Homo sapiens: one gene and its partners. The protein of the gene in region 1 purifies or fractionates together with the protein of each later gene. This does not show direct contact. Each region holds a gene or a part of one and is shown in the gene's direction. Other genes may lie near its edges. The genes, in order: AIFM1, C17orf75 and APOOL.

What was found.
Region 2: the proteins of AIFM1 (region 1) and C17orf75 purify together in Homo sapiens (affinity purification with mass spectrometry; 2 studies listed by BioGRID and IntAct, with this or other methods). This does not show direct contact.
Region 3: the proteins of AIFM1 (region 1) and APOOL purify together in Homo sapiens (affinity purification with mass spectrometry; 2 studies listed by BioGRID and IntAct, with this or other methods). This does not show direct contact.

What each region holds. Positions count from the first base shown.
Region 1 is NC_000023.11:130,163,641-130,167,392, reverse strand, and holds the start of AIFM1 (apoptosis-inducing factor 1, mitochondrial isoform AIF precursor), read left to right. Parts: upstream 1-1,551; 5' UTR 1,552-1,736; coding exon 1,737-1,842; intron 1,843-3,752. UniProt on the Homo sapiens protein: Functions both as NADH oxidoreductase and as regulator of apoptosis.
Region 2 is NC_000017.11:32,339,963-32,343,714, reverse strand, and holds the start of C17orf75 (protein Njmu-R1), read left to right. Parts: upstream 1-1,541; 5' UTR 1,542-1,575; coding exon 1,576-1,715; intron 1,716-1,761; exon of another isoform or gene 1,762-1,914; intron 1,915-2,430; coding exon 2,431-2,511; intron 2,512-3,752. UniProt on the Homo sapiens protein: As component of the WDR11 complex acts together with TBC1D23 to facilitate the golgin-mediated capture of vesicles generated using AP-1. May have a role in spermatogenesis.
Region 3 is NC_000023.11:85,052,229-85,055,880, forward strand, and holds part of APOOL (MICOS complex subunit MIC27 precursor), read left to right. Parts: intron 1-2,115; coding exon 2,116-2,170; intron 2,171-3,598; coding exon 3,599-3,652. UniProt on the Homo sapiens protein: Component of the MICOS complex, a large protein complex of the mitochondrial inner membrane that plays crucial roles in the maintenance of crista junctions, inner membrane architecture, and formation of contact sites to the outer membrane.

The sequences.
Region 1 (3,752 bases):
AAAACAGTTCCAAGCCTTTTCATTTAACAAACAGCATGGTGCTTCCTCTAAGACACTTTACAAATATTAGCTCATTTAGTCTTCCGAACACCCTCCTGAGATTTGTAGATGAGGAAAATGAGGCACAATTAAGTGACTTGCCCAGGTGGCAGAGCCAGGATTCAATGTGGGTTGGTCTGGATCCAAGGTCAACATGTTTAACAATGAAAAATGTTATCTTTGGTCCGAAAGTATTCACCATCTGAAATATCAATCCTTTTCCTCTACTGTTTGAATTTTACTACTCATCCTTCAAGACACAACTCAAATAACTTCTTACACGAAGTTCTACCATAGTGATTCCATCCCATAGTCTTCTCTCTTGCTCTGTCCGGCACTACACCAGATATTATTTCAATGACCGGTATATGTCATCTCCCCAACTAGACAGTGGCCACTTCCTATATAGATGCTATGTCCAAATAAACCCATTGTAAACTGAAAATATCGTTAAGTCGAAACTGCATTTAATACCCTGATAAACCCATCATAAAGTCAAAAAACCGTAAGTTGAACCATGCTTAAGTCCAGATGCTCCTCGACTGACATGGGGTTAGGTCTCATTAAACCCATCATAAAGTCGAAAAATTGTAAGTCGAACCATTGTGAGGGGTAAGTCGGGGACCATCCGTACTTTTCATACCCAACAGAGCCCCTTTTATAGTACAATCCAAGAGGTAAGTGCTCAATAAATACTTGTTAAATGAATATGTAAGCTGAATCTTTGAAACAGGCACATTGTATGTTCTGCATGCAGCCAAAACATTATTTCCAATTTAGCTTATATCTGGCAGAGTCAAAACACTTATTTACACTCAGCCCCTCACCCTACTCCCATAACTGAAAGTTCTGCTTAGCAGACTTCTCTTCCCAGAAAGTCCGAGAAGCACGAACGCTTTTTGCTAACATCCTGCTCCCAAGCACAGAAACCACAGCAGGAGACTGTGTGTATCTGTAGCACCTGGTATACAGCATCTAGGACACACAACTGAACTAATAAATAAAGGTGACAGGCGGGAAGAAGAGCGCAGAATTACTTGTCCAGGAAACGGGTTGGGTGGGAAAGAGCCGGCAACTGGTAAAAGATGGAAGTACACGCCGGATCTGGGAAGCCAGGTTCCGCGCCTCGGACTCATGGAAAAACTGGATCTGGATCACTGCAAAAGAATCAGGAAGGCTTCGGTATCAAGTAACTGGTGTCCTAAAACCAAAAAACAAAGTGCGATGCCGGGGCTACGCTGTTGTGAGATGCTGTTATCAGTTCTCGTCACCAACACAGCGGCAGCACCAGGCACAACCGCCAATCAAAGCGGCCCCACGAGTCCCTCCTTGAACAGGTTCCTTAACTCGTTCAGTCCAACACTGTGCCACAAACTCGCGAAAACCGGCTACCTAGAGCCAGCGTCTTTGCGAGCTTGCGGCCAGCTAGTGCATGCGCAAATCCTCTCGCCGTGCGGACCAATCGCAATGCGGCAGCGAGTGCTACGCCTGCGCAGTAGGCCTCCGGTCGCCGTTCCCCTTCCCCGGCTCTAGCAGGCCGGCTTCTCTGTCCAATGCCCACCCGGAGCTGGGAGGAGGAGTCTGCGTAATGTGCGTGTGAAGAGACTGGGGGAGCTGGCCGGGGCTCACGGTGTTTGACCCGTCGGTCGTGCGTGAGAGGAAAGGGAAGGAGGAGGTCCCGAATAGCGGTCGCCGAAATGTTCCGGTGTGGAGGCCTGGCGGCGGGTGCTTTGAAGCAGAAGCTGGTGCCCTTGGTGCGGACCGTGTGCGTCCGAAGCCCGAGGCAGAGGAACCGGCTCCCAGGTGACTGACCCATTCCAGGCAACCTCCAAGTCCGAGGGCCTGGCGCCTTAGGCTCCCTGTGCCTTGCAGCCCTCTACCCCCGCGTCCCCGCGAGAAACTTAACACATAGTCACGTGAATTCCAAATTGGCAGACTCCGAACCCTGAGTCTTGCAAGCGGAGGAATTGGCTCAGCCATGCCGACCTGACCTTCAAGAGATTTGAACCCAGTAGTCGGCTTGAGGCCTTTTCCCGGGAGCGTTTGCTGTTCAGGGATCCCAGAACAACTGGCTGTCGGCGCCTCCCCGGCATCCCCACCCCCCACCCCCCTTTTTAGAGCAATGAGGTCAAGTAGACTTTGTCATTTACCGATTGAGACTTTAAACAGGACGTTTAAGCCCTACGCCTAAGTTTCTTGTGTAAATGAGGGTGTTATCTGCTCAGCCTTCCAAACCACAGATGAGATCCATGGATTTGAATGCCCAGTGAAACAGAAACGGTGCAGGGCAAGTAAGGAGTCGGTTGGTTGTGTACCAGACACCCAGAGAATTGGCCCAGACTTAATTGGAGATGCCTGAGCCGTGTACTTCTTGGTGGTCTTTAAGGCTTCAAAGAAACAGTTTGCAGAACGCATTGTATTTTGTTCTCCATTAAGTTGTTTCATCAAATTTTAGAGCTGGAAGGGATTTTGTGGTAAAGGTCAACCCACTCATTTTATAGATAATAAACTGAGGCACAGAGAGGTGAAATTACTTGCCAAAGGTCACATAGTTAATTAATAGGTAGAGCTAAGGATAGTTTGCTAGCCTCCAGGTCCTTAATCCCTTCGCTGCAACTCCATACTGCTTCCTAAAGTTGACCTCAAAAAGTTAAGAATGAATTCGGGTCTCTTCCCAGTAATTAGCCCATTGTACATCAGATATCCGTGAATTTATCTGAGCATGGCTTGAGCCTGCTTCTTTTCGTACTGCGTTACTTCATGGGGGCAATGAATGATCCACCTGTAGGAGTTGCTTTGAAAAAAAAATCAGTAATCCTTCAATGTCCACCCCTAGGGCATTTGCAATGTCAGAAGTTATCCTTGAGGCTTTTACAATACAGAAACACCTGGGTGCTTTAAAAATAAAAAGTGGAAAATATTTTCCTTGGGTTGTTAGGGTCTTTGCAAATGTGCATTTGAACAGTTTTTCCAGTTGCTATGCACAATGAAAATGTTTCCTGATAGGTGTATTTGAGTTATGTCCTGGGACATACTGCTCTTGGAACTTAAAACCTCTGCTTAGCTTTTAAACTAATGCCTTATCAATGGATGTCATCTTTGAGGGTTTTGTGTATTGAAATGATGGTGCTCTGTGCTTGTTGCACAGAAATTGAGATAACCTGAATTTTTTTTTTTTTTTTTTTTGAGACGGAGTCTCGCTTTGTCGCCCAGGCTGGAGTGCAGTGGCGCGATCTCGGCTCACTGCAATCTCCGCCTCCCGGATTCACGCCATTCTTCTGCCTCAGCCTCCAGAGTAGCTGGGACTACAGGCACCCGCCACCACGCCCGGCTAATTTTTTTTTTTTTTTTTTTGTATTTTTAGTAGAGACAAGGTTTCACCATGTTAACCAGGATGGTCTCGATCTCCTGACCTCGTGATCCGCCCACCTCGGCCTCCCAAAGCGCTGGGATTACAGGCGTGAGCCACCGCGCCCGGCGATAACCTGAATTTTTTCATCCACACTGGCCTTTCAAACTTTGAGTAGTTGTTTTGCTTAAGTCTCACAACTTTTACCAGCATTCTAAAGTCTGACCAAAAGTTCTCATCAATTAAATATGCATTTGCAAAGTTAAGTTGATTTATTAGACATTGGAAAGTGGTTGGTGTTGTTAGAACTACTGAAAAATACAGACTCAAATGGTTTTTTCCACTGCATGTCTTTGTTTGAAGG
Region 2 (3,752 bases), on another chromosome or scaffold:
GGAGATAGAGGTGAGGATACCCATTGCGAATGAAGACATGGCAGTAACTTCTGCAATACAATCTTTTAAGAATCTGACTGCTATACTCACTTGTTCATCAAATGAGTACCTTTATTGCAAGAGAAGAAACTGTGCTATCCACTTTGATATGGAGAGGCAATTTGGAATCTCTGCCATAATTGCTTAGGACTGAGGATTTAATGTGCTATTTTGTGAAAATCTGAGAAGCAGGAAGGGGATTTAACGATCTCAACTGTTATCCATCTGAAAAACCTAACTTGTAATTTTAAATGAAATGGCAGGTTGCCTTCCACTATTCCTTTTTAAAAATAGGAACTGCCCCTGCTTTTAACTTTATGAAGTTTTATTTATGAATAAAGTTTGCACTACTAAAAATAAAAAAAAAAAACACAAAACACACGCATGCACACACACACGGTGGCTTAAAACAATGGAAATGTATTATTTCACAGTTCTGGAGGCTGGAAGTTGACATGGAGGTGCTGGTGGGGACATACTCTCTTGAAGCCTCTAGGGGAGAATCTGTTCCATGTCCTCTCCTAGCTTCTGGTGATGACCATCAATCCTTGACATTCCTTGGTTTGTAGATACATCACTCCAGTCTGCCTCCTCCTTCACGTGGCGCTATGGTTTGAGTGTTTGTCCACTCCCAAATTCATGTTGAAATGTAATTGCCATTGTAAGACTATTAAGAAGTGGGGCCTTTAAGAGCTAATTATAAATTGCCCAGTCTTTGGTATCCTTTTATAGCATCATAAAATGGACTGAGACAGAAAACTGGTACCAGAGAATGGGGTGTTGCAGAAACAAACACCTGAAAATGTGAATTGGTGTTAGAACTGGGTAATGGGCAGAGACTGGAAGGGTAGCTGGCATTACAGGCGTGAACCACCACACGTGGCTAATTTTTTTGTACTTTTAGTAGAGACACAGTTTCACCATGTTGCCCAGGCTGGTCTTGAACTTCTGACCTCAAGTGATCCGCCTGCGTCGGTCTCCCAAAGCACTGGAATTACAGGCGTGAGCCACCGTGCCCGGCCTTTTAGTTTTTACGTAGTCATTTTTTTAAACGTTTTCCTGTATGACTTCTAAGTGTTTTGTTATGTTTGGAAAGACCCTCTTCAAGAATTAACAAAATTATCCCATATTTTCACTTTAACAAAATTCATTTTAAATTCTTAACTTTTTGATCAAACGGGTGTCTGTGCGTGCTGGCACGCGCGCAAGGAGGCAGACGAGTAGCCTTATTCTTTTCCATGTGGCTAGGTAGTTGTGCCACCTTTATCACATAGAAAGTTTCCCAGATGTCTCAAAGGAAAATAAGTTCAAAATAAATGGTAAAAGCTTGTCAGTAAAGGCGAACTCAGTACGCCTGTCAGCCCCTGTGGGGAGAAGAGACTCCCTTTCCAGGCCAGTCCTTGCCTGCGAACCCGGGGAAACCAGCGGAACGCAGGTGTGCGAGGGCCGGGAGCCGGACGAGCCCTGATACCGACGGCTGCACGGGAGCAGGGGAGCGGTTTGGCGGAGACACAGGGCCGCTCAGAGGCCGCCGCAATGCTCCCCTCTTTGCAGGAGTCGATGGATGGAGATGAAAAGGAACTAGAGAGCAGCGAAGAGGGAGGCTCAGCCGAGGAGCGGAGACTCGAGCCGCCGTCCAGCAGCCACTACTGTCTTTACAGCTATCGCGGAAGCAGGTGCTGGCGCCCAGCTCGGCCTGCCAGCCCGCCCGCCCCTGCGGCCCCGCCCCCGGCCCGCCGCCCGGCCTTGCACCCCACCCCCGGCCCAGCGGCCCGGCCGCTCCTAAAAGCCATCTTCTCCTCTCCCAGCCAAGGTCTCTGGCCTGAAGGGCGCTCCTCGCCTCCCGCTGCTCTTCCTGGCCCCCGTCGTGGACTTGTATGCCTGGCCCAACCATGCCTGTGCCCTTCATCTGCCCCTATATCATCCCAGCCTCTTACTCTCGCGGCTGCCCTTTGTTTAGCGCAGTGCCCCGCATGCTCAATAATTTCAGTTCCCGTCCCCTCTCCTTTCTGTCATTATCTCCCCACTTCTCCCATTTCTGTCACACACACCCCCATCCCCACCCTCTGGTTTTCCTCTGTTCTTGATTCCTCTTTTTCCTCCTTCTGACTTTCCTGGAACCTTCTTGGCCTTGTCAAGTTTGGTTTTTAAAGGAGTTTCCTTGAACCTTCTGGGTATTTAGCCTTTCCTCCACCCGTTAAGTGGCCTGGAGAGAGAAGGGGCTCTTGTCAGCACTGCTGTATGGGTTTTCCTTGTCATGAGGATAGGCAGTGCACTTCCACCTTGCAGCATTTTTAGTTGACTCCTTGCCTTACCCTGCTTGCCAGGCCCCCATACTCCTCTTGGTTTAGAGCCCATAATTGATAGCACTATTGGTTTTGTGGCTTGTAGATTGGCACAGCAACGAGGGGACAGTGAGGACGGAAGCCCAAGTGGCACAAATGCAGAAACTCCCTCTGGTGATGATTTCAGGTAAAAAGAGCTTCAGCATAATTCATGCATGTGCTTTCATCTTCCCTGCATCTCTGGCCTGTACATGTCAGTGGATACTCTATTTCCACTGAGCTTTCCCTGAGTCAAACCGTCAATTCCTCCTATCCCCTAGGAACCTCATCCTGATTTCCTCATTGGCTGGTTCATTCAAGGCTGGGGCAAACAAATCCACATACTGATAGTGTGCTTGGTGATTAGCCAAAAAGAAATCCTTTTTTTTTCTTTTTCCTTTTAAATTGAGACAGGGTCTTGCTCTGCTGCCCAGGCTGGAGTGCAGTGGCATGACTTTGGCTCGCTGCAGCGTCAACCTCCCCGGCCTCAGGTGATCCTCTCACCTCAGCCTCCCCAGTAGCTGGGACTACTGACCACCACGCCTGGCTAATTTTTGTATTTCTGGTAGAGATGGGGTTTCACCATGTTGCCCAGGCTGGTCTTGAACTCCTGGACTCAAGTGATCCGCCCACTTCTGCCTCGCAAAGTGTTGGGATTACAGGCATGAGCCACCTTGCCCAGCCCTGAAAAATTTTTTTTTTTTTTTGAGACAGAGTCTCCCTCTGTTGCCCAGTCTGGAGTGCAGTGGTGCGATCTCAGCTCACTGCAAGCTCTGCCTCCCGGGTTCACGCCATTCTCCTGCCTCAGCCTCCCGAGTAGCTAGGACTACAGGCACCCACCACCACGCCCGGCTAATTTTTTTGTATTTTTTTTTAGTAGAGACGGGGTTTCACTGTGTTAGCCAGGATGATCTCTATCTCTTGACCTTGTGGTCCACCTGCCTCGGCCTCCCAAAGTGCTGAGATTACAGGCGTGAGCCACTGCTCCCGGCCCCAGCCCTGAAATTTTTAAATCATCAATTATACCTCAATAAAGTTGAAAGATAAAAAAGATAAGAATGTGTGCAGGGGTGTGATTATAATGACTGACCATGGAATTAAGGCAGAATAAGGAGGGAAGTGAGATGAGAAACTTGAGAGACTGAAAAAGAGGTAGGGTCAGTGGATTGGGGGTTCCAGTGGAGTCACAGTACTGGAGAGAATGAGCTGGAAAGATAGGAATATTTTAAGCTATTTGATGAGGTAGATCATACTTAGTGACATACATTCCTAGAAGCCTCACCAATAGGGGTCATAAGGACAGCTTTCCCCAGTCCTTAAAAGAGCCCCTGGCGTTGGTACCATTCTGTCTGACTTAATGGGTGTGAATACCCTAGTCCACTGGTAAAG
Region 3 (3,652 bases), about 45 Mb from region 1:
TAAAGTGTTATTTACTTGTTGGCGTTAGCTCATAAGACCATTCTAACTACAGTAAGCTATTGGGCAAAGTAGAATACACGTGACTTTAATGCTTAGCCTTCAATCAGCAATATCCATCAGCAGAGTGGTGGAGTAAGCTGATGCAACACTAATGTTTCATTATCATCACATAAACATCATTGTGTTAGCATCTCCAGTGTCAGTATCTTAATGTTGGTACCAGTGTTTTCATCATTCTAACCTAGTAACCATGCGACTTTTCCCCAAATATAGCCTGATGGTGAATCATTGTTCTTTTTAGTTTCTATCCATTATCTTTAAAAAGAAATCTAATGAACTTATGAAAAATAATTTGTGCTTAGGTGAAATACCAAATCAATGAACTCTGGTAATTCCAGATAATATTTCAAATATCTGATAAGTACATGATGTTATTTTTGAAAACTTGTGTTTGTCATACAATTCTTATGGTACTAGTTGTACTACACACTATTAATAGTTTGATCTAAGAGGGAAATACCTTAACCAATTATGGTCTGAATCATGCCCCTATGACTATGTGCCAATAGCTAGATGATTCAGACTTAAGCCTCCTGAGATGTAATTTTCCATAATGTTCTGAAATTTTTCTTCAGTGAGATAAAATGTTCCTGAGAGGTCTTTAAATTGCTATTGTAACTGTCATCCAATTTAAGATTCAAAAGAATGTTTTATTCCATTAATATGCTCAAACAAATAGGTTGAAGAAAGGCAATTTCCAGTGCATTTTGTCCTAAATGTAAACAATTTTTTTTCCTAATTTTCCCCTAAAAATGTAATCCATTCTTTAAAAATTATGTCTGACTCAAATTCGTTCCACATTAAAGCTTGAATCATGTAGAGCAAATTCAATTTCTACTCCTGCTAGCTTAGTGTTTTGAAATTTAGGTAGCACTGACCCCATGTGGTAAAAATGAATTCCTTAGCAGAGCTAAGAAAAATTTTTTTTGAAAGATGACTAATTTTCTTCCTTAATGGTTAAATGATTCCCAATCGACTGGTCAATAGGTATTTTAACTTTGAAGGTGAAATATTCTCAAGACAGTCCCTACAGAAAAGTAGTTCAATAGCAGTTAGCGTTTATGCTGATTTGTACAATTTTAAACCAAGATGAACCTCTGCATCTCTCTGATAACCATTAAAATATGTAAGACAAAATTACAAAACCAAGCTATCTCTATAACAAAAACTTATTTCTTCCCTGTCCAATATAATAATATCTGTTTTCTCTGCTTTGAAAGTCTCTTTTGTTCTTGTTTTTATCCCATGGTTTCATAGCAGCTAGTTCAGAGAAGGATTGTGTTTTCTGGTTCCATCAACAGAGTACAATATGACCACGAGTAAATCATTTTGTGACTTCCTTTTTTTTCTTATCTAAGTGAGGTAATACCTAGCACTCAATAAATATATTTAACACTCTTTTGCACTAAAATAAATCAGTTAGAAACAGGTAAAGTTAAAGATTTGCTTTAAAACTTTAATTCCTCTGATGTATTAACATAGTTTTGATTTCTAGAGAATTTATGTTCCGATTTAAAAACAGGATAAACACTGGTCTATGTAGGATGATTTCTGTCCTGAGGTAATTTAGATTTTTTTCTCATTCTAATGCACACTAAGAAAAGGGAGGAAGATGAAGCCCTTTGCTTTAGGCTTTTTGCTCTTTTTTTCCCTCCACAAATCATTATGTTGTTGCTATTGCAACTTTATTAATCAGATGTTGCTTCTAAACTGAAATATACCTCCCTTCTTCTTTATTTAAATTCCATTTATTTTTCTAGGTCATTATAAAATAAGATGATAAATATTTTTTTCAGTATCATTTCTGCTCTGATTATTTCATAGGCACATTATCCATTTATATGAGAAAAATGATATAAATGTTATCCATGTTAAATAGAATGAAAAGCAGGAAATGAAAACAAGCTGGTAGTGAATACATAGGAAAGCTGGATTTAGATTTGGGCATAATGTTAAGTCAACCTTTTAATATAATCTCAGAGATGCAGGCAATTTTATCTCATTATCAACAGCTTCAAAAATGCAGATGTCTTCCCCCCCTTTTTTTTTGCTTAGGGTGTTTATGTCTTTGTGAAAAATGGGATAATGGATACAGTACAATTTGGAAAAGGTAGGTGAGTAGATAATTAGAAATGTTTTATTGTGTTTTTAAATTGCATTGTTTAAATGTGAGAAAAATAAACTTGGTATGTTACCCATTATCATGCATTTACCAACTCAGAAGGTACTCTCTATAGCAATTTATTGATTAATTTATTGATTATTTGTTGATTATTGATTAATAGCAAAGCAGTAATATTCATTATTCAGCAGTTATTATTGGCTAAGGTGTTGTACTTAGCATTTTACATAATTTTTGTCACAATTATGTTAGTATTGGTATTATAATTATTCCCATTTTACAGATGAGGGCAACTGAGGTTTAGGAAGGTTAAGTAGGTTATCGAGCTTACGTAACTGTAAGTGGTAGTGCCAGGATACAAACTGAGGTCTGTTTTAACTACAAAGTCTATATTATATATCATAAAGCATAAATTAAAAACATGTCTCCATTGTTGCTAATTAGTTTAAGTGCTACTTGCTGTTAAAATACATTGTATTTTGCTGTCAATTGCTAGGAAATGTTATAGCAATCACTAACCCTGGAATATTTAAGCTAATGGTTAAAAAGCAATTATACTTGACTCTTTAGCTTGTTAATGGTGTTTGGCAACAGATATAGCTTTGTAATATTCTTGGCTTATGCCAGTTGTCATAATAAATATGTATAGGAGATAGAAAGATGAGCTAAAATGTTGAATGTTTCCATGAAGTTGATGACCTGTATTTGAATTGTCATTATTTAATGTATTAGGAATAAATTCAAAATTATATTCCTCATCAATCATGAGGAATAGGATTAAATATGTGATTGCCATTAAATAATTAACTATGATAGAAAAGTGTACTTTTGGAACCAGAAACAAATTCAACATATAGAAAGCCAAGAACTACTCTTCATCTACTTTTTGTCTAGGCTCACTGATGATTGACTTTAACCAACAGCAGTGGCTGTCCTGAGGTTATTAGGGAGTAGTGGCAAGCAAGGTCTAGTAGCTGTGTATATCCTTAAACTATTATTCAAAACTCCTTAATAAAGTATCTATTTCATTTCTTATTGGAGGCTACCAGTGTTTGAACAGATAAGGGCAGAAGTTCATCATAGAGATATAATACATACGCAGTCAGAAATTTACCTTATAGTAACCCATATTAAGATGTGCCCTCTAGCATTACATTTCTTTATAGTAATAACCGTCAGTATCATTAGGAAAAGAAATATTAAATCAGCTACGGAAGGAAAATTTTATTTTGTAACAAGTAAATATATCTAGTTTTTTAGCTTGCTACTCATATTGTCATTATATGTAGCTCTTTTGAAGAATATTTAAACCTCATTATTATCTTAGCAAATCTCTTTAACCTTCCTGCATTATAACTGTATAGAATATCCAGTAGAATTCAGTTATTCATGTTAATTTTTAACTGATTTCTTGAGATGCTTATGTCTATCTGAAGAATCCTCCTCGAGATTTTCTTCCGAAAATGGGAG